2 separate regions of the Homo sapiens genome follow, and region 2 is linked to region 1. Evidence: fine-mapped expression QTL. Tissue or cell type: whole blood. Region 1 holds a variant in brackets; the other region holds the start of a gene. All regions are shown on one strand. Distances are from middle to middle. Region 1 has its middle 31 kb from the start of VPS54. Region 2 holds the start of VPS54 (VPS54 subunit of GARP complex).

Evidence for each region. PIP is the estimated chance that this variant, and not a neighbour inherited with it, causes the effect.
Region 2: VPS54 starts here. The variant in region 1 is fine-mapped to the expression of VPS54 in whole blood (TOPMed, PIP 0.97).

Annotation. Positions count from the first base shown.
Region 1 is chr2:64,044,852-64,056,968 of GRCh38, forward strand. No RefSeq gene overlaps it. Among named protein-coding and RNA genes, the nearest start is that of VPS54, 31 kb to the left of the region's middle. The variant G/T (reference allele first, on the strand shown) is at 5,524.
Region 2 is chr2:64,011,880-64,023,824 of GRCh38, forward strand. VPS54 (VPS54 subunit of GARP complex) reads right to left here and starts at 7,549. Exons shown (of 23, transcript NM_016516.3): 1 at 7,059-7,549. RefSeq lists an enhancer at 6,733-6,802 and a silencer at 6,963-7,672.

The DNA.
Region 1 (12,117 bases):
GTTTCAACTAATGTTTCAGCTGACCCCATAGAGAGCCCCTTTTTTTGTTTGTTTTTTGAGACAGGGTCTCACTCTGTCATCCAGGCTACAGTGTAGTGGTGCAATCACAGCTCACTGCAGCCTCGACTTCCCAAGAGCCCATGTTTTTAAGACCTTTCATACCCTGCACTCTGCCACGATGGTACGCTGTTTATTTTTATTTATTATTATTATTGAAAGGGAGTCTTGCTCTGTCACCCAGGCTGAAGTGCAGTGGCATGATCTCAGCTCACTGCAACCTCTGTCACCTGGATTCAATCAATTCTCCTGCCTCAGCCTCCCAAGTAGTTGAGATTACAAGTGCCTGCCACCATGCCTGGCTAATTTTTGTATTCCGGTAGAGATGGGGTTTCACCATGTTGGTCAGGCTGGTCCCAAAATCCTGACCTCAAATGATCTGCCCGCCTTGGCCTCCCAAAGTGCTGGGATTACAGACGTGAGCGACCATGCCCGGCCATGTACACTGTTTGTATATAACATATTAGCACTAGATGCTGATGATGAAAGCTAGCTGAAGTCAACCAGCCGTGTCATTTTGACTTCTGGTTGTTTAGTGCCTCTTTGGTGGTAGATGGTGCTTGCTGGTAGGCATTACCATGTAATCTTCATGCCCACTTTGTGCCTATTCACATATACCCATCCTTCCCCAGACTTTCTTGTTCCTGATCTGCCAAGCTTTCTCTTCTAGGTCCTGAGGAGCTTGGTTTTAGAAATCAGATAATCCATTATCTGCTAGGATGGTTTAAATAAAAGAAGCTTGTATTAAAACTCTCCATAATATATTTGACTTTTTTTTTTTTGAGACGGAGTTTCATTCTTGTTGCCCAAGCTGGAGTGCAATGGTGCGATCTCAGTTCACTGCAACCTCTAACTCCTAGGTTCAAGCGATTCTCCTGCCTCAGCATCCCAAAGTGCTGGGATTACAGGCGTGAGCCACCGCACCCGGCCTATATTTGACTTTTTTAAAAGCCGAACTATACTATAAAGAATGTTTTCAAAAGAACCAGCCAAATTAAAATTATAGAAGGTTTTTTGTTACCTTTAGATTCATGTTTTAATATTCATGGTGAACTATCTTTTCTACTAAAGCCCTTAGACAACTGGCAGTAGCAATTTTCACTGTCTAGAAGGTGGCTTCTCCAACTCAATGTGCATAAGAAGCACCTGGAGCTCTTGTTGAAATGCAGATTAAGATTCAGTTGCTCTGGGCTGAAGCCCAAGACTGTGCATTTCTATTAGGCTGGTGCAAAAGTAATTGCGGTTTTGATGGCAAAAACCACAATAACTTTTGCACCAACCTAATAACAAGCTTCCAGGTGGTGCTGGCGCAGCTGGTCTGCAAACCACACTTTGAATGGCCAAGTTCTGTGGCCTCTTGTCCTTCCCTGCTAGCTGGAAATTCACCTTATAACAAATTCAAACCCACTTTGGTCCTTTGGGCTAAAACCGATCCAAGATTTAAGATGTTCAAATTGGGATGGTTAACTGATCCCATTACATGTTCTGCCCTGCAAGTTAGAATGCGGACTTAAATGAAAAATTAAACTATAGTCAAGATTTTAAAAACAGTTGAGGCTGGGCAAGGTGGCTCATGCCTATAATCCCAGCACTTTGGGAGGCCAAGGCAGGTGGATCACCTGAGGTCAGGAGTTCGAGAGCATCCTGGCCAACATGGCGAAACCCATCTCTACTAAAAATACAAAAATTAGCTGGGCATGGTGGCAGGCACCTGTAATCCCAGCTACTTGGGAGGCTGAGGCAGGAGAATCACTTGAATCTGGGAGGTGGATGTTGCAGTGAGCCAAGATCGCACCATTGCACTCTAGCCTGGGAGACAAGAGCGAAACTGTGTCTCAAAAAAAAAAAAAAAAAAAAAAAAATTGAAAATGTGACCCACACTCTCCATATTCATTCATACTCTCTATGTCCTTTGATTTAACCAGTATTCTTGTCATACCTTAATCTCTTCTTAATGAATAAGATTTAAAAAGATGTATCGATGGAAATAATGTGTTAAACAACTTATCTGTTGACATAGCAAATAAGTAGAATTATTTTAGAAAGCTATTTAGTAATCTGTATCAAGATGTTGTTTTTTTACACCAGAATTGTTTCAATGTTTGTTTTACCCCATATTCTCATTCTTGATAATTTATTATACAAAATTATAATATTTGCTGAGCATTGCCACATGCTCTTCACTGTAATGGATTGTAGATTAACTTGCAGTAAGGAGAAAAGCACTTTCCACAAACATATTTATTTCAGTATGAACTAAAATGAAAAACATAGGAAACTAAACTTCAACAACTAGGTAAATTTTTATATAACAACTCAAAGGAATAATTCAAGACATTAAAAATGTGTAAATTATAAAATTGTGTGTTAAATGAATGCAAATAAAAAACTATAGAAGCAAAAAAAAAAAAAAATGAAAGTTAAAGAGGCAGAATTTTAAATAAAATGTTGCCTTAAAAGTTACTTGAGGCTGGGCACCGTGGCTCATGCCTGTAATCCCAACACTTTGGGAGGCCGAGGCGGGCGGATCACAAGGTCAGGAGTTCGAGACCAGCCTGGGCAACATGGTGAAACCCTGTCTCTATTAAAAATACAAAAATTAGCCAGGTGTGGTGGCAGGCGGCTGTAATCCCAGCTACTCGGGAGGTTGAGGCAGGAGAATCGCTTGAAACTGGAAGGCGGAGGTTGCAGTGAGCTGAGATCGCGCCATTGCACTCCACTCTGGGTGACAAGAGTGAGATTCCACCTCAAAAAAAAAAAAGTTATTTGAAAAACTACACACACACACACACACACACAAATGTGTAGAAGGATCAGATAATACAAGGCTTCATTTCATTTCTTTGGCTGTTGAGGCAACTTTTAAAAAGCCTTCTCTTACACCAACAAAAATATTCTTGTCCTTTCCTGCTTTCATAGCCTACATCTTCCTGTTTGTGAATACAGGTAGGAGATGTTGGAGTGGCAATCTGGGGCTCTCCCGTGGTTTACAGTGAAGAAAATAACTCAGTTTCATCAAGAGGCTGGCAAATGTTTTGCAGATATTTTACAATTGTATCAACCATAACAATGCCACAGATTCTACAAGGCTAAAAACCAGGCAGCAAGGCATTTGTCTTTCGGCTATTTTTGCTTAGAAGTTATTGGTGTTTGGCCTTATTTTCTTATATTGTAAACTTTTTGGATATTGGATATTTAGTTGTAAATGTCAGCTTGTTTATATTTGAGTTTACTCAACATTGGAATCCCTAAGGAATTCTTGAAGTTTGATAAATTCCCAGATACAACGGCACAATTCAGGGAGAGGAGTTTAGAGTCGTGAGTACCCTTTGCAGGAAGATAATGGTAAGCAAAACCTACTCTTAAAAGTTGTGTTGGGGGGTAGACCACAGTAGCTGATGGATGGTGAATGGTCTCAGGGTGGGAGTGGAGAATGGAGAAGGAAGAGGAGGCTCTGGGGCATAAAATGATGGGCCCTATACTAGCACCTCATTCTTGCTTTTACAGGGGAGGGAAAGACTTTTCCTCTACCCTCCTAGGTTTAAAATTTGAGTCTGTGAAACAAACTGACAATACGCAGATTAACCGGAGAAAAGGTATACAAATTTATTGCATGGATGGGGCATCACAAGAGAAAAAAAAATGAATACCCAAAAAAGTGGTGAGATTTGGGAGCTTATACTGTCTTCGTAGGGGAAAGAAGAAGAGGGATATGGACAACTTAGGAGAGGGTAAATAATTTGGGGGAAAGAATGAGCCCTTAGGGAGATGGAATCGTTTGTAGCAAACTCTTACATTCTATTATAGATGTAATAGAAGTGGTGTCCACTTCTAATCTTCTGTCCTGTTGTAATAGTCAATCTTCCTGGTTGATTAACCTACCAGAGAGGGGAATTAATGACAACTGAGTTCATTTTGGAGGATCTGTCTTCAGGCAGGTAAGGGAGAGTTCAGAGAAAGCCTCTCCCTGCATTTGCTGTCTTTCAAGTGTCTTCAGCTTCAAATAATTAGTATACCAAAGTAGCATATTTTGGGGTGGCATGTCCCAAATGCCTTTGCTTTCTTTTTTCTGAGTTTGGGAAATGTTCTTCCTTTTCTTGGGCACACTGTCCCCACCAAAGACAGAACAAACAAACAATTCAAGCTTTTATGCAATGAGATAGACACTGTGCTAGGCCTGCTCCCATTTTTGGCCTCCTGCAAAAATCCCAAGGAGCAACCTGGGAATATTTTTTTTTTTTTTTTTTTTAAGATGGAGTTTCGCTCTTGTTGCCCAGGCTGGAGTGCAATGGTGCGATCTCAGCTCACTGCAACCTCCACCTCCCAGGTTCAAGCAATTCTGCCTCAGCCTCCCAAGTAGCTGGGCCTACAGGCATGCGCCACCACACCTGGCTAATTTTTGTATTTTTAGTAGAGACGGGGTTTCTCCATGTTGGCCAGGGTGGTCTCAAACTCCTGACCTCAGGTGATCCGCCTGCCTCGGCTTCCCAAAGTGCTGGGATTACAGGCATGGGCCACTGCGCCCGGCTGCAATTTGGGATTTTTGTAGGAAATCAGGAACAAGGCTCAGGAATGCTGTCCTGAAAATGATCAAATCCTTTCACCTGCCTGTCTTGCTAGGGGCGTGGAGAATACATAAAGGTACACAGAACTAGAAGGATGGAGGAAATAATGAGGCTGTCATGGGAGATTTCCTAAAGGTTACTATGAATTAGCTAATTTGTGATACCTTGTTGCTAATTGCTGAAGAGAGGCTGCTCTTTTATTCAGAGTTATGGCTATGCCAGTTCCTTCTGGGCACTATTCATATGCATGAGTTTGCCTCTTGTTCTACATCAGTGCCTCCTGGTTTGCCCTCCTCTTTACACTCTTGACATGCAGAGGTGAAGGCAAGTGTGGTTGTGCTTTCGTTAATTTTGTATGGGAGGAAGTGGTTGTTCAGTGACCTTGGAAAAGCCCAGTGCTGATGTTTTACAGCAGGTGGCAGCCTTTCCCTGGGAGAGAAGACAGAGCTAGTCTGATCTAATGCAAAATTGTTTAGGGTTTTATTGCTTTTCCTTGATAGACGTGTCAAGTGATTACCTGACCCTGAAGTTGAAATTGGCTTTATCACAGAGGGAAGAGAAGCAGAGATCCTAAGCCCTGGAAAAGGGAGTGTAAACTCACTTCTGGGGCTCAATCCCACAGCTGCTGCCTCTGAAGAAACTGGTGGCTGCCCTCAGGGAGTCTGGTCAAGTTCAGACACCACATGGCATCTCTGAGCAAGGGCCCACAGAGAGACACGGATTGGAGCAGGGAGACACAGATTGAAGCAGATCAACAATTATCCTGCTGTATTTTGTGAAGGAGGGCATTTGATAGCAGAAGTACCCCCCTTTCCATTCCAGATGTGTAAAGCAGCCTTTTTTTTTTTTTTTTTTTTTGAGATGGAGTCTTGCTCTGTCACCCAGGCTGGAATGCCATGGC[G/T]CAATCTTGGCTCACTGCAAGCTCCACCTCCCGGGTTCACGCCATCCTCCTGCCTCAGCCTCCCAATGTAGCTGGGACTACAGGCGCCCACCACCATGCCCGGCTAATTTTTTTGTATTTTTAGTAGAGATGGGGTTTCACCGTGTTAGCCAGGATGGTCTTGATCTCCTGACCTCGTGATCCGCCCGCCTCAGGCTCCCAAAGTGCTGGGACTACAGGCTTGAACCACTGCGCCTGGCCGCAGCCTTTTAAACTAATCTGCCAAATGGTTTTCTTAAGGTTATTCAGTTACTTGCATTCAAATTTGCAAAGTGCTTAATAAAAGGAAAGGCAGACTTGGTGGAGAAGCTTGATGCTGGAAATACATCCAATTTGTTTCTGAATTCTTTTTTGTCTTTTTTAATTTTTTGTTAATTTTAATTTTTTTGAGACAAGGTCACACTCTGTCACCCAGGCTGCAGTGCAGTGGCATGATCTTGGCTCATTGCAACCTTCGCCTTCCAGGTTCAAGTGATTCTCGTGCCTCAGCCTCCCAAGTAACTGGGACTACAGGCGCTCACCACCATGCCCATAGGAGTTTTCTGTATTTTTATTAGAGACGGGGTTTCACCATGTTGGTCAGGCTGGTCTTGAACTCCTGACCTCAAGAGATCCACTTGCCTCGGCCTCCCAAAGTGTTGGGATTACAGGTATAAGCCACTGTGCCAGGTCTGTTTCTGATTTCTTAATGGTAGGATTGTATGTATAATTTATCAATAAAGTGCTATGTAGAAAACATTATTCAAAACTTAGCGTAAATGAGTAGAGATTGACCGAAGTCCCTATAGATGAATCTACTTTATGCCTAAAGGAAATATGGGTGATTAGACAGGGATAGGAGCAGACAGAAATCAAGGGACTAGGTGGGACTATTGAAATTAATTAAAATTGAAATGAAAAATTCAGTTCCTAAGTTGCACTAGCCACATTTCAAGAGCTCAACAGCCACATGTGACTAGCGTCTACCATGTTGGACAGCACGGATAATTGACCATTTTTATCATCACAGAAACTGCTACCAGATAGCAGTGGACTAGAAGAAAAAAACAGGGAGTGTGGCCAAGTGAAAAGGTGAGTAGTTAAGAACAAACCCTCCCTGTAATGCTAATTATTGAAATACTAATTCCTAAGTGTGGCAGGAGTTTCAAATAGAGTATCTCATATAATCCTCATACTGATCCACAACCACAGTAACGCTGCTGACATTTGTTGAAACCTTTTTACTACTGCAGGCCAGGCACTAAAAACTCTGTTGAACTGTTTGGGCTCGGAAAACAATACCCTAAAACAAAGACCTCAGAAAGCAACCTCAGAAACAGAAGTTTTTCTTTGACCTTCTCCTGCCCTCCTGTCTCTTAATCCTTTCTCCACTGAGGCCAGCCGCAGAAACTAGAATCCCTCTTCCCGAAGGTGGGTCATAGAAACCAGAACCCCTTTACCCAAAGCTAGTCATAAAACCTACAATTTTACTCTAACTTTCCCTCCACCTTTCTGTATAAAAACTGGCCATGAAGAAATTATCTGACCTCCCTTATTTGACTGTAGGACATAAGACCCTGGTTCCAGAGAGGGTCCTGTCCCACACCCAGAAGGAAGGAATGCGTGCTCAGAGACGCCAAGAAGAATCTAGACGGACAGGCCTTGCTGGGTTTCCCCACTCCGGCCATTAGATCTTACCCTTTTTGTCCAGTCATGTTCCTATACAGCTGGCCATACTTTGTTGAACCTAAGCATAAAAATGACAATTTCCCCTGCGTGTTTTGGTCTTCATTCTGAAGGCTCTTGTGTATTCCCGTTAAATAAATTTGAATGTCTTTTCTCCAATTAGTCTACCTTTTTTGAGTTGGTTTTTCAGCAAACCTTCTGAGGGCCACGAGGAAAGCTCTCCCTTGGCCCCTACGTAACTTGCTGGTCTTTGCAAGAACTCAGTCAAGTTGGTACTATTATTGTTCCTATTTAACAAATGAGGAAACTGTAGCAGAGAGGGACTTTAGTAACTTATCCAAGGTTACCTGGCTTGTAAGGAATAACTGGGACTCAAACCCATGTCTTTCTGGGCTGTAACAATTACAGAGAAAGCAAGCAAGGAAAATACCTAGCACTCTCTTTATGTGAGTCAAATTTGCTTTTAAGCCACTTTTCCCTAAGGCAGGCCCACCTCTTAGATTTTCTGTCACATAATTGTCTTTCTGGCTGAAGAAGAAGGCATTATGCCAATTCTGAGAGAGTAACAATGACCCCCTGTTAGTCAGGATGTGAGCCGCTTCCTTCCCTCTAAAGCAGAGTCTGCTGCTGCACAAGGGAAGTTGGTTTCTCAGAAGCTCACCTTTGTAGACACAAGTCTGTTTGGGTGACATTTTTTAAGTAAAATATTCTTAAGATGAAAATGAAGACTAGAAGTGTACATGGGAGATGCTCTTTTCTCTAGGTGGTGAGATTAAGAAAAACTGTTTTTCTATTCATCCGTATTCTGTAACTTTTCTACATGAATATGTCTAAAAAATTTTTTTTAAAAAATCAAAGCCAGAGACTGCATGGGAAAAAATTGTGCCTTGGCTTTTGTTAATAGGCTTTTGATAAGATAGTAACTACTTTAGTACTAATAGCCAATAAAAATACATTTGGTTGAGTGCTAAATACTTTAAACAATAGCAGGGGAAGTGTGGAATTTAATTATAAGGTTAAAAAGGACACTAAACAATGTCCAGATACTCAGTGCTTCTCTGCAGATGGAGACACAGTTGTTTTGTGTTCATGGCCCTGTCTTTTAAATTTTTTTTATTTTTATTTTTTTGAGATGGAGTCTCGCTCTGTTGCCCAGGCTGGCATGTAATGGCTCCATCTCAGCTCACTGCAACCTCCGCCTCCCAGGTTCAAGCGATTCTCCTGCCTCAGCCTCCTGAGTAGCTGGGATTACAGGCATGTGCCACCACACCCAGCTAATTTTGTATTTTTAGTAGAGATGGGGTTTCTCCATGTTGGTCAGGCTGGTCTTGAACTCCCGACCTCACGTGATCTGCCCGCCTTGGCCTGCCAAAGTGCTGGGATTATTGGCTTAAGGCACCGTGCCCAGCCACGGTCCTGTCTTATGTCGCACAGTTCAAAGTGAGGCACAGGCTGGTAGATAAAAAACAGGGAAAGTCATGAATCACAATATTACTTTTATCATCAATTAGCAACAAATGGTCTCTGAAAACTAATAAACTTGGCATGGGGAAAGAGAGAGGTGATCTTTTCAAGCTACAGTGCATGTTTGTTCTCCCAGGTGAGACTCATTAAGTAGAAGCCATGTTACTGAGAATTTGCAAATATAAGCAGTATGGAGGCAGAAAAAAAAAAAAGAGGCTGAAAACTGGTCAGTGCTTGCTAAGGTTCTTTTCTCCTACAAAATTCTAAGATTTTGTGATCGTTTTAGTTTAGTAGTATGTCTTTATATACTTTTAAAGTTATGTACTCTTAAGTTTCTATACATTTTAAAGCTAGTTTTCCCTAAATTGATGTGCTGCTACAGGGTATCTTAGACTTTTAGTTAAATCTGTAGGTGAGTCCACTATAAAATGCTAGCCAAATGAAATGGTAGCCAAAAACATTTTCAAATACCTAAGTATCCAGAGTGAGTACAGTTTATAGGCTCACTCACTTTAATGGCGAAATAAAGGAATTTTAAGTACAAAAGATAACTCAGAGGAAGAATCAAGTGATAATACAGCACCAAGGAATCAAGAAGTCATCCCCCACCTTCCTCACTTCCCCATCTCTCAGGGTTCCATTTAAAACCAATTCCTGCTTACCTTGGAGTGTAATTTAAGTGGAGTGGCTATAGTATTAAAGCTAAGGAGAAGGAAAAACATGTGAATTACCAGCAGTCATCTGTCTAGGCAGACAGTTGGAGACAAGAAAGAACAAACTGAAAAAGGGCAACAGACTCATGCCACAGGTGGTGCATGCAGGTGCAAGGACTTGGGTCAGACAAGCCCTTCTCAGAAACACAGAGAAATATTCAGCCTTGTTCACTTTCATTCCCTGCAAGAGGACAGACCTGGCAGCCTTAAAAAGGAAGAGTTCTGGAATCAAACCGGGCTCTTTTGTGTTTCCTGTTTGGCTGAAAGCAATTTGAAGTGAACAAAATCCTAAGATCAACTCACTTTAAAAATTGTATATATATATATATATGTACATATATACATTTTATATTGCCTGATTATGCCAAATAATCTGACTTTACCAACTACATTGTCTTTGCAGATGACGCAGAGCTACCTGTTTGTTTTCTCTTTTCTGTGCTTCATTGTTAGATAACTTTCCATTTTGTTTGATGGAAATAACCACGCTAGGGTCACTGATCTGACACTGCAATCTCTTTATTCTTGGTTTTACACTGCACTTCTAGTTTCATAAATGAGGCCGTATTTAGGCTTTGGTTTATGGAATTGAGTTTACAAGGGTATCCTTCACTCTGTTTTATTTCTACCCTCTGGCATCTCATGGATGTGTGCTTTGCTCAAGTGTCCCCAGAGACCCGGAAGAACCAGCTAGATGGATGATCCTTGAGTTGCTAGTTGCACAGATGTTTACATGGATTATCTCAAAAATCAGATGTTGCATCTCATTTATGGGATGAAAAAGCTTCAAGAAAGGAAGATAGGATTTAGATCTTTCCTTTTTTCTTCTTTTGGACTTAAAGTGCAAAGATTTGAGTTAATCGCCTTCCTCAGATCACTGTATGTGATCATCCATGAGAGGACCTTTTTGTTTTATTTTACTTCATTGTTTTCCTCCTTGATTGCCAGCACTGGCAGTCACTCTGATGTATTAATAAGTGTTTGGATATGAGTGTACCCCCAGGTTGTTTTTTCTATAATGCTGCTTTATGAATATATGTGTTAAATCTGTAATGTTCAATGGCTCTCATTCTGTTTCTTGCTTTTTGATGCAATGCTGTTTTTAAGCTCTATTCATGTTCCTTTATGCACAGCTAGCGCATTTCTTCTAACTGCTGCATAAGATTCCATATTATGTGTCATGATCATGTCATGATCATCTGATCCTCTTAACATATCTGTGGCCCCTAGTGGTGGACTCCCAGACTGCCCCGAACTCTCTTGTACCACAAACAATCCTGTGATAGACATGTTTGTGTGTATTTCTTCATGAACCTGTGTGGAGAGGGATTCCTGGATTGTAGGTTGTCAGTGAGCATGCACGTGTGTGCATGTGCGCATGCGCACAAATACACACACACACACACACACACACACACACACACACACACACACACAGAGATACTGCCACAGTGCTCTCTAGGATACCTGTATCTGTGTACACTCCCGGCAGCAGCACATGAGGGTTTTTGTTTCCCACACCTTTGCCAAGATTGCCAAGATTTCCCAACTTTCTAATTTTTATAAATCTATTGGGTGTAATGTAAGGCGGTATGTCAAATAGTTTTAATTTCCATTCTTCTGTTTACTAGTGACACTGAACTTCTCTTCAATCCTTCTTAGGCATTTGGTTTTCCACTTCTGAGAGTTGGCTATTCATACTTTTTGTCAATGTCTCTCTTGGGTACTTTATCTGATTTATAGGAGTTCCTTATAAAGTCGTCCCCCCTTATCTGAGGTTTTGCTTTCCGAGTTTTGTTACCTACCATCTTTAGTCCAGAAATATTAAGTGGAAAATTACAGAAATAAACAATTCATAAGCTTTAAATTGCATGCCATTTTGACTAGTGAGATAAAATCTTGTGCCATCTTGCTCCATCCTGCCCAAGGCCCTTATCATTCCTTTGTCTAGCATGTAACCACATGCTGCCCACCCCTTAGTCACTTAGTAGCCCTGCCGGTTCTCAGAATAATTTGTGGTATCTCAATGCTTGTGTTCAAGTCACTCTTATTTTATTTAATAATGGCCACAAATTGCAAGAGTAGTAATGCTATTATATTATTATAATTTGTTGTATTGTATTATTAGTTATTGTTAATCTCTTACTGTGCTTAATTTACAAATTAAACTTTATCAGAGGTATGTATGTAAAAGAAAGAAACATAGTATATATAAGGTTTGGTGCTATCCACAGTTTCAGGCATACACTTGGCAAAGTTTGGAATGTATCCCCTGCAGATAAGGAGCACTATTGTATATTCTGGGTTTGAATTCCTTGTTGGCGTGAAATATCTTCCAAATGTTTTCTTTCTGTCTATCCTCTGTCTGTGTAAGTTTGTTTATGATGGGCTTCACTGAACAGAAATCCGTAATTTTCGTGCAGTCAAAATTTCATGTCTTGTGCTTTTTGGGTCTAATTTACAAAATTCTTTCCCATTCCAAAGTCTTACATATATTCTATATATTCTTCTATTAGCTTTATCATTTTATAGCTGTATACCAAGTCATAAGGTACTCATAAATATATGATTATTGTTGGTACCCCTAATGTTGTGTAACACAGTACTGGCCATATTATAGGAACTTAACAAATAAATTTTGTTTCTTTCTCTAGCCCTGTTTCTCTGGTAAGTGGATTGAATGACCCCTCTGCTACAGACTGTTTTGTGGCTG
Region 2 (11,945 bases), 33 kb before region 1:
AAGTAACAAAGATGATGCTTTCAAGGAATTTTCATTTTAGGGAAAATAAAGCAAAATAGCTAAGAAACATCTGCAATAAGTCAGTAAATAGTTTACAAATAAAAATATTAAATGTTAGTTTAAGGGAAAAGTAAATACAGGGTTTATGATTACTATAACCTCAAACAAACAATAAATTAGTATTTTAATTAATCACTCCTTGGCATTACCCTTGCATCTCTCACCACTGGTTGGCTATCTTAGCCCTGCTCTACTTTACTAACTTCATTACTTAGCCTACATCCCCATTACTTCATCTCCCTTGCATCTCTCCTCCCTCATCCACCTTCAATACAGTGTGTCTTTGCTTTTCTCCTGCTTGCAGAACACTGCCAGAAAAAACAGTAAAATATGCTGATTACAAATTTATGAGTTCCAATCTCAGATGAGCCTCTGATGCTGCTCAGCAATTCTTTCACTTATTTATCTTGAAACACTTCTCTTCTCCATTCCCCACAATATGTGGAACATTTTCATCACTCTCCTCAAGTCCCCTAGCCTACTTCCAACAACGCAAGGCTCAAAAAGTAACTGTTTAAAAAAAAAAAAAAAAAAAAAGTCCCCAGATGTAGTTTTTTCCGTTCATATCCAAATGTACCTAATTCTCATCTATACACAACTCTTAACTTTCTGAGATAGAGTATAGGTGTCTACTCTTTTCCAGAGTTAATCCCCCAACAGCTGTTTTTGATCTTACCTCTTCCTGCTTCATCTGGGACCTTTTTCTATTAGTTATTCCCCAATTCTATCTTTAATCTCTTCATCGGCCCATCAAAAAAAAAAAAAAGAAAAGAAAATTTCAAGCACCAAATGAAGGCCCTTTCCCTCCTCCCTGCCTCCTCCAGCTACTACTTCTCACCTCCCCTTCATTGGCAAACCTCCGTTCTCTTTTTGGTCTACTTCCTTAGCTGTCTTCCATCTTCACCATTTACTTGGCTCCAGAAAAGGTTAGGAATGACCTGATTTCTACATTCCGTGGCCTATATTCAGAATTTATCTAACCTGACCTCAATGCCCTGAAAAAGTCAAAGAAGGTAATAAAAGTAGAAGGAATGCAAAAAGAAAAGTTACCATTTGTAATCCTCCAACATAATGACTGATTCAAGCAAGGATCATTAATGGGTACCAAAATCACTGGTTAAAGGGTTGTCAGGGAATAGGATATTTACATGGCTATTAAGTATCCTCTATAAATTATTTATTAAACAGTAGAGAGATCTGTCAGTTCACCTTTACCAAGTGATCAAACTTGCATTACCGATATAGTGATAGCCTGAAATCATGTGCCTCCTGATGTAATACAGCAGAAATACACATCATCTGTGTGATGGTCTCACCAGAAATGTCTGACTAGAATCTAATCATGAGGAACAGACCAATTCAGAATGTGGAACATGCTCCAGGACATATGGTCTCTACTTCTCAATGGATAAACCTAAAGAAGAGAGGAAGGCGGTAGGACTAGTCCAGATTGGGGGAGACTTAAAGAGACATACCAGCCAAATGCAATGCATTAACCTTGAATGAATCCTGCATTTGAGGGGGGAAAAAGCTATAAAGATTTTTGGGACAAATGGGAAGATTTAAGTATAGAGTATACATCAAATAATGTTATTAAGTAAATGCTGATATATATATATGATATATATATCAGCATTTATATATAAATATATATCAATATATATCATATGATATATATCAGCATTTATATATAAATATATATCAATATATAGATATATATTGATATATATATCTATATATTGATATATATCACATATATAGAGATATATATATCATATAGAGAGATATATATATATCATATATAATACCAATCAATACCACATTACTTATTCTGAATATTGTCTGCAACTATTCCACCCTCAAATTACCCCATAAAAATCTTACTGAATAGCTGGGCCTTTGACCACCTCTACCCTTATTTTTATATGATTCTGAAAGAAAGGTGACCAGTTAACAAAATTTTAAGAAACCAGCCAGGCGCGGTGGCTCACACCTGTAATCCCAACACTTTGGAAGGCCGAGGCAGGTAGATCACAAGGTCAGGAGTTCGAGACCAGTCTGACCAACATGGCGAAACCCTGTCTCCACTTAAAATACAAAAATTTGCTGGGCGTAGTGACACGCCAGAAAGATGAAAAATAATTTTAAAAGAAATCTAGAAGGAAATGAGATTTTACAAATGGTGAGCAGGCTTACAACCCCTATTTCTTCAGTTAAATTCTCACATCTGAAGAATAATTACCTTCAGATAATAGAAAAACCCTTCAAATACACAGGAAGGCAGGCATAGTAAATGAAGACAAAAGGATTATTCCCCAAAAGGGAATTAATCCAAATAACGACAGCATACTCTTAAAAACACTAAAACTTTTTGAATAAGTCACTTCCAAAAATTTTAACTCTGAAGTAAAATATATATATTTTCAAGTCTTCTCAAATAGCATATTTGAAAACAAGGTAATCTTTTCTTAATAAGTTAATTTCACCATTATAATAATCAGTTATTTTACTGTGCTATAACGGTGATACTCTCAGGTGCTACAGAAGGAAGTCAGTTTGCCCCTATATTAAGGAGTTTCAGATTATAGTGATATACTAGTTATTTTACTAGTTTGTTATCAATATTTGTATTTAGTGCTTCTCTCCTCCCTAGAGAGGCTGTCAGCCATCACTATTCTCCGCCTTACTATCTACATTCCTGCCTTTGACAACCTCTATATTCCTTCCTAATTTGATTCTTCTGAAGCGAATAACTCTTCTACAGTATATTATAGTTGACACTGCATCTTAATACATATTACCTCATTTAATAATTCTTACAATAGCCTTGTAATACATGGATTATCACTACCCCTATTTTATAGATGAGAAAACTGAGGCTCAGAAAGAATAACTTGAGTAACTTATCCATAAGGTATGGATGATAAATAGCAAAAGTGATCTCAACTGTCAATTACCTTCTTTCATCAACAAATTAAGCTTGTTAAAAACATTAAATAGTCTAAAGTGGAGCTCATAGGGGAAAAAAAGATTCATTATAAGCTTGGAATTTTTCTGGACATTCACAACATACATACATACATACATAACATAAGTGTTATACATACATATATAACATAAGTGTTATCCATAAAGTTAAACACTTAGCTTACTTCTCCTTTCTTGGTAGTTGAAGCTGCCAGGAAAAAAAAAAATCACTTCTGGATAAAAAAGATATGACTATATTCTATTTACAATTTCAAAAACATATGCAAAAATAACAATTCAAAACAATAGTAGTCCAAATTTGCAGTAAATTAAGTCTGTTTTTAGAAAAAAAGGGGTTCTTTTTTCAGATTTGAAGACAACCTAAACATACGAAACAGTATCTGCGTCATGTCGTAAACAGATTTCCTTTTATTTTTCCCTCAATTCCTCCTCTTGCAAAGAAATAGAGTTAGTTGCTAGAGGATCTAAGGTGTTAATCTAATTCACCAAACATCGCCCACTGAGACTATTCTCCCACCTGGTAGGAATCAAAAACACTAGGTCCTTACCAGAAATCGTGCAGCCCCTAGGTTTACAATGGTACCATTGACATTTTGAACCGGATAATTTCTTGCAGAAGTATGTCCTGTGCATTGTAGGGTATTTAGCAACATCCTTGGCCAATACCATTTCCTTCAGCTATGACAACCAAAAATGTCTCTAGACACTGCCAAATTTCCCTTGGAGTCAAAACCGTCCTCGCAGAGCCATTGTTTTAGATGTTAGGGCACTGGATATTTGAAAAAGGAAACCTCCAACTGGCCCTGTTAATTATATTTTTTTAAAATTTGGATTTAAAAAAATAAGACATTAATAGTATAAGAAGATATCTAAATAATACATTTGCTACCCTTCCTTAGGTTAAAGCATTTTTAGAGGATTTTGTAACATGGGTTTCATCAATGTAGCTACATATAGTCACCCACTTTTCCCCCAAAGTTGGGGGAATGTCCAGTTCTTTCTCAGCTCTGCTAGCAAAATGTCAAATACATACATATATACAAGAATCTAAACAATTCTAACTTCCAAAGTCCCATTTCTTGCTTTACATGGCCACGCTGTGGTTCTTGAGCCACACATCCTAGAGATTCAAGCTTCTAATCTCCATGTTTCCTCATCTGGTTGCTGCCAACTAATAGCGAGGTAAGCAGGAAGTAAGCTGATGACCTTTAAGATCTTTTCCCTGATATTCTAATATTCAATGACAAAAATGCCCACTTTTACTTATTGATTCCGAGCTGACCAAACTACCTCTTGAGGTTACTGAAGCCATTCATGCCTTCTCCAACTTTATGCTGAATACAACCAAAAAGTGTATCAGTTATTTACAACATCACTTTTAATATTGGTGATCAGTTGCTTATTCCCTAGCTCAAATAAAAAATTTTAACATGTACACTGATTTTAAAGGAAAAGCTTTTCAAGAAGCTATGAGCCAAGAAGCATTATATGAAAGGCCCACATTAGGCCAATATTGAGACAGAAAGTAGACTAGTGGTTGCCTAAAGCTGGGGGTGGGGTGAAGAGAATGGGGAGTAACTGTTAATGGATAAAGGTTTTTTGAGGGAATGATGAAAATGTTCTAAAATTAGATTATGGTGATGGTTGCACAATTATTTAATCTAAAAACCACTGAATTGTATATTTTTTTTTTTTTTTTGAGATGGAGTCTCGTTCTGTCACCCAGCCTGTAGTGCAGTGGTGCTATCTTGGCTCACTGCAACCTCCACCTCCCAGGTTCAAGCGATTCGCCAGCCTCAGCCTCCCCAGTAGCTGGGATGACAGGCGCTCACCCCCATGCCCGGCTAATTTATATATTTTTAGTACAGACGGGGTTTCACCATGTTGGCTAGGCTGGTCTCGAACTCTGGACCTCAGGTGATCTACCTGACTAGGCTTCCCAAAGTGGTGGGATTACAGGTGTGAGCCACTGAACCCGGCCAAGTGGTACACCTTAAATGGGTGTATTTTATGGTATGTTAATTTTATCTCAATAAAGCAGTTTTTAAAAAGCAAAGAGCAGGAAAGAGGAATTGTAATTAACTTTTGTTGATTAAAAAAAAAAAAAAAAAAAAAAAGAGTGTGATGGGCCGGGGCCGGGGCGGTGGCTCACACCTCTAATCCCAGCACTCTGGGAGGCCGAGGCCGGTGGATCACAAGGTCAGGAGTTCAAGACCAGCCTGGCTAATATGGTGAAACCCCCGTCTCTACTAAAAATACAAAAATCAGCCAGGCGTGGGGGCGCCTGTAGTCCCAGCTACTCAGGAGACTGAGGCAGAAGAATCACTTGAAGCCGGTAGGCGGAGGTTGCGGTGAGCCAAGATAGCGCCACTGCACTCCAGCCTGGGCAACAGAGCAAGACCCCGTCTCAAAAAAAAAAAAAGAAAAGAAACAAAAAAAAAGAGTGTGATGAAGAAATTCTGCAAAATTTGCCGTTTCATGGGCTATATAGGAATTGACTTTAATTCTGACACAAAAAATTATCTTATCCAGAAATCAATTTTAACTTTCCAGAAAATATAAGCATATGCAAAAGTAATCACCTTTTCCTAGTAAACTTTTAGTATTAAATTCTAATTTCAAAAACACTTCAGAAAGCCAAATGCTGTAGTAACAATACTTCTACAAGAACAAAATATACGAATATCAACAACAAAACAGTCTTTACGATTTGGTTGTGATGCATTCTTTATTTTAAAAACCCATTAAAACATTTTTCATTTATTTAAAAAAGTGATCCTCAGACTGCCTCTTAGATTGGTAGTGTAATAATTCTTAAGTTATCAGAACATAATTTAAAAATAGCCAAATTACAATAAAATCGCAAACATCTACTGTCGTCCCAAACAACTATCAATTACAGCTACTGGTAACCTATCATAAGCAATGATGAGCACTACGAACCATCAACATCCATTTCTAGGAAATCCGATTCTGACTACACTACAAATACAGTCAAACAAATCCCATCATTCCCTCTGTTCCATCATTTAACTGCTTAGAAATCATTTAGGCTCTGAAGGTGCTTTTTCCAATTAGAACTCCCCTTCGGATTTATAAAAGTGAATGTACATCAAAATCTGCAGTTTAGGTTATCGCAGTAATATTTCTCGGTATACTACAAGTAATTTATCACGGTATTACTTAAAGGCGTTTAGTATTAAGACCGCCCTTGATTTGACAAATCAGAAATACAGCCAATTAAAAACAAAAACAGTCCAAACAATTTAATTCTTCGAAAGAGCCTCAATAAAGACCAAAAAATAAAGCTGGTTAGAAGAAAAAAATTTTTTTTTGAAACGCCTGTCAGTCAAAATGCTAAAAATACCATCTTGAACTCAACACATGAACAGACCAAACGGCTAATTATAATTGGCAAGCCAAAGTTCCCAAGTCAACGACGGGAGAGCAGAAACGGCAGAGAGGGCCTGCCCTTTCTGTCTATGCAGAGATGGAAGGAGGCAGAACTGAAGAAAATTATTGCACAAATTATTTCAAGCTACATTGCCAAAATGCAAAATACTGAGTAACTCTTTGGGTTAGCCTTCCCCGGAGAGAAAAACAAACAAATGTTTTAACGATTCCAGTAGAATCCAATAGGACTAAGGGCCTGGCTGGAAAAAGAAAAGGAAAGTTTGGGGGCAGCGTCTAAGGGGGTGATGGAAGTTCCAGAGCTGGGATCCCGGAAAGATAAGAGAGGGGCAAGAGCGGCGTTTGCGGTCGCTGACAGGAGGCAGGGAACACAGCTGCCAGCCCCGATCCCGGAGGGAGAGTGAAAAGGAAAAAAAAAAAAAAAAAAGGAAGTGGCGGAGAGGAGCATGGAAGCTTCAGTGCCGGTCAGCTGTGACCGAAACTCGGTCCGTTTGGGGCTGGGGAGGAGAGCCGAGGGGGTGGGGTCTCGGTCCCTCTCTCCGCTGTAGGTCGGGGTGAGAGTGGGCTGAGACGCGCGGGGGGCCGCGGGGCACACCTACCTGCGGGTCCCGGGGCAGCCGCCCTGAGCGAGGCCTAGTGCATCGCCGCCGCCTCCAGCCCTCCACGTCGCACCGAGGCTGCTGCTCCACGGCCGCCGCCGCCCGGCGCCCGGCCGGGCCCGAGCCCGGGTTCCCGCCCCCGCCCCGCGCCCGCTGGCCAGTCGGCCCGGGGAGCACAGGGCCGCCCTCTCGAGCCCAGCTTCACTCAGGGGTGAGAGGTGGCAGCGGCGGCTCCCTCACGTCTCTCCCGGGTGTCCTGTCAGCCAGCAGTTTCCCCCGGGTCCGCAGCGCCGCCTCCGCCGCTGCTGCCACCGCCTCTCCCACATCCCCGGCCTCCAGGGGAGCCGCCGCCGCCGCGCCACGACCACTGCCTCTAGCGCTTCTGCTCCCGACTCCACTGCTTTCCCTCACCCCGCCGGCCCAGCCGGCTCGGCCCGGTCGGGTGCGGGGAGACAGCGCCGGAGGCCGCCGCAGCCCCCAGCCCACAATCCACCGCGCGGCTCCGCCGGGGCGGGAGGGCCGCGGCCCGGGCCGGGGGGAGCGCCCGCCGCCTGGGGAAAGCGGCCTTGGCGCAGGCCGGCGTGCCCGTCGCAGGCGCAGCCAGAGTTCTCTCGGGGCGGGGAATACACCGCGTGGCTCCCCTGCGCCTCCTCTAATAGTCCTACACGCAGACAAATCCACGCTGAATTCCACTTTCCCCACCACCCTTCCCCCCAACTCCCAGTTTTCAGGAACACCCAGAAAACCTCCTGCCGCCTTCCCCGGGACTGGGACGCGACCCCTCCAGCGTAGCCCTCGCCACCCCCAAGACCAACCGACTCGAAACATCCCTAAATCACCCGGGACCTATTAAAGCAAATACTTCCACGAGATTCCTCCTCTCCCCCACCCCCTCGAAGTAAATGCTTTTCAGCTGTTCCCTAGTAAATGCCCTTCCAAAGGTTAAAGGTCACCCCTCCGCAACAACCCAGTTCTCTCTATTGAGGCCTTTTCCCCATCCAGTCCTCCCCTCCAAGTCTTCCCCAAGTTCCAGGCCTTCCTCCCAGACACTGTAATCAGTTATTCCTGTTACTTGACTGAGATACTTGGAGTGTGTATGATAATTAATACCTTCTAATTCTGACTTCAGCCTGGTTTCACAGGACTTGCAACTTTAAACCAATAAAACACAGTCCACAAGAAAGGGAAGGTCTTAGTATATAAATATAAAGACACACACACACACACACACACACATATATTTTAGGAAGAAAAAGATCCTCAATCCTTTGAGTGCTTGTGACTTAATTTTGGGAAGATTTTATTCAATGTTGAAATTCTTGCCTAAAAATAAATTTCAAGCATTTATAAGACATAGTATGTTTTAACAAATCAAAAGTGAAAATGTAACTCTTATAGTTGGGGGGTTGAAAAAAATGTTGATCCAAGTTTCACTTCTAAGAAGTCACTTTGAAAACTGCAAACATAACTTTTATGAAATAATATTTTCCCCACCAAAGAGCTAAAGTTGGGGAAAGAGGACAAAAAGTAAGGAAGCATCAAAAATAGTTGAGAGAAAACTCTTACATTATATTTTTCTAAGTTCAATCCTCTAAAATTATGTAAGAAACAAAGTGAGAAAATCATTCCCCAATATGAAATAAATTTAACTGTAAAAGAGTGAAGTCCTCTTAAATCCCTGATCACTTATAAAACCAGATGAGTTTACATAGAAGCAGAGTAGAATGGTGGTTACCAAAGACTGGGGGGTAAAGGGTGATGAGGAAAGGGGAAATGTGAGTCAAAGGGTATAAAGTTTCAGGTAGGAGGAATAAATTTTAGTGATCTATTGCACAGCACGATGACCACAGTTAATAACAATGTATTTAATATTCCAGAATAGCTAAAAGAGTACTTTCTTTGTTTTGTTTTGTTGAGACTGTGTCTGGCTCTGTTGCCCAGGCCAGAGTGCAGTGGCATGATCTTGGCTCACTGCAACCTCTGCCTCCCAGGTTGAAGCAATTCTCCTGCCTCAGCCTCCCGAGCCGCTGGGACTACAGGCGCGCACCACCACGCCCAGCTAATTTTTGTATTTTTAGTAGAGACGGGGTTTCACCATATTTGCCAGGCTGGTCTCCAAACTCTTGACCTCGTGATCCACCTGCCTCAGCCTCCCAAAGTGCTGGGATTACAGGCATGAGCCACCACGCCCAGCCAAGAGTACATTTTAAATGTTCTCACCATAAAAAAAATAAGCTGGGTACAGTGGCCCACACTTGTAGTCTCAGCTGAAGTGGAAGGATGCCTTGAAACTAGCAGTTTGAGTCCAGCCTGGACAACATAGCCAGACACCATCTCTTAAAAAAAAAAAAAAAAGTAGGTGAGGTGAAAGATATGTTAATTAGCTTGGTTTAGTTATTCCACAGTGTGTACATATATCAAAACATCACATTGGATCCTATAAATATATATAATTATTATTTGTCAGTTTAAAAATTTTTTATTAAAAAAGATGTGTTTATACTGTGAAAATATTAACAAGAGGATTAACCAAGTTTTATCTAAGGCCAGAAAGGAAAATAATTTTTCTTTATGTCTAGAATCAGTTCATAGATTATGCTAGGAATTGGATTTAGCAAATTCTTATATTTTGACCCCCCTCAGGAAGTCAACAACAGTTCAAAAACTTCCTTAAGCCTGGCTGGTTTGGCCTTTAAAAAAATATTTGTGTTTATACCCCACCTTGTTCCAGAAAAGATTCCAACTTGGCACTTGGACTAAATGATAGCCGTCAGTTGTCTCCCAGACACTAGAACAAGACAGTCTGGTTTGCTTCCTCATTATCCATCTGTTGATAACATACCATAGGAAGAAAATACACATTGAGTGTCGTGCTTAGTTCTTTCAGAGATCCAGCTCAATGTTTACTTTTACTTTTACTTTTCCACAGAACAATTCATAATCTTGAATCTAAACAGGAAAGTAAATGCTGATGATCAGGTTTGCAAAAATTTTTTTAAAGTGTGTAAACTGGGCAAGCAATTTCATTTAAACCTAGATAAATTTCAAATTAATTACTATGTTCACTTGCTATCACTTGAATCATTTCAGTCAGTATGAGAGCTAAAAGCCAAATCACAAATAAATAGGTATAGATATATTATTAGTGTACATTTCCAGAAAGCACAGATGATAGAAAATTAAGAAATTAATACAAAATTAAGAAATGGATAGGAGTTAAGATTCCATCATTGCCTTCAAAAAAAGGAATCAGGAAGAAAATATTTAGCTACCATGTCACTAACACTGTATTTGGCATATTTATTATATCTGTTACCGACCAATCACATGAAAAGTGATAGTCCATCAAGGTTATATGTTCTAATTAGAGGGAGAATGGCAAATTTTCTAATGCCATAACACCTATAAAAGGGCTATGTTTATGTTTACTGTGTATTCTGTGCATATTTGTATAGGTGGCAGTAGTAAGGTTAACATAGCTACTCAATCACTGAACACTGCCTTTCTTTTTTTTTTTTTTGAGATGGAGTCTTGCTCTGTCACCCAGGCTAGAGTGCAGTGGCACGATCTCGACTCACTGCAAGCTCCACCTCCCAGGTTCATACCATTCTCCTGCCTCAGCCTCCCAATATAGCTGGGACTACAGGCGCCCGCCTCCACGCCTGGCTAATTTTTTGTATTTTTAGTAGAGACGGGGTTTCACCGTGTTAGCCAGGATGGTCGTGATCTCCTGACCTCACGATCTGCCCGCCTCGGCCTCCCCAAGTGCTGGGATTACAGGCGTGAGCCACCATGTCCGGCCTGAACATTGCCTTTCTAATGATTTATTTGATAGAAACTATACATTCCCGTGCTATATAAATACAGAGGGGAAAGGGGGCACTGATAGAATGAACAATGAGAAAAATAATTTTCCAATTTAGTAAGATAGAAGCACTAGCTTCTTTTTTCTGTGATAGCAAACCTTGAATCTATGCAATGGAAACCCATCCACATTCTTAACCTACTCTACAGCTAAATATGTGTAATTATATTGTGTGTTTAGTATAAATAAGCTATCTTTGATAAGCAAGATTTACATGCACTAATGAACTGAAGGTGTCAAGCTGGTAATTGTTTCATTAGGGTTTGGATCCAATAATGTCCTGAATTATTTTATGCATCATATTTGAGCTATTCTTAAATGTTATATATATAAATATATAATTATATGTGTTTTTATAATTTAAAAAATTTTACAATTTTTGATACAGCTAATATATAGTATATAAAAATATAAATGATAATTTATAACAATATGACTCTAACCTGAAACTGTGTTTTGATATTTCTTCATAGGTAATATAGGACTATCTTAATGTAGGAAAACTTTCCAGTTTACTTTGAGTATGGTGTAAGATATTAAAGCTAAATGTAGATATAAGCACCACTAGAAAATTTATAATATTTTATGTGGTGATGATAATGTACTCAATACTTGTTGGGAGTAATATACAAGTCTTCAACATATCATCTTTTTGTCTTCTACACCAGCCGCTTGGTTACTTTGGAAGCAATTATTTAACTCTGTTAAATTTCTCTGTTAACTTTTTTCTTGACCTCGATATTTCAGATTTCCATTTTGATTATTATAATAATAGCAGCTGTAATCTACTAAGAATTTACTGCACCCCAAGCATAGGGAAAAACCAAGATACTATGGTATATTAGTTTTCTATTGGTATGTACAAATTATCGCCAATTTAGCAATTTAAAGCAACACACGTTTATTATGTCATGGTTTCTTGAGTCAGGAGTCTCAGCACAACTTAACTTTGCTTAAGGTTTCACAAGGCTGCAATCAAAGCATCCATCAGCCTGTATTGTCATCTGAAAGCTTGACTGAGG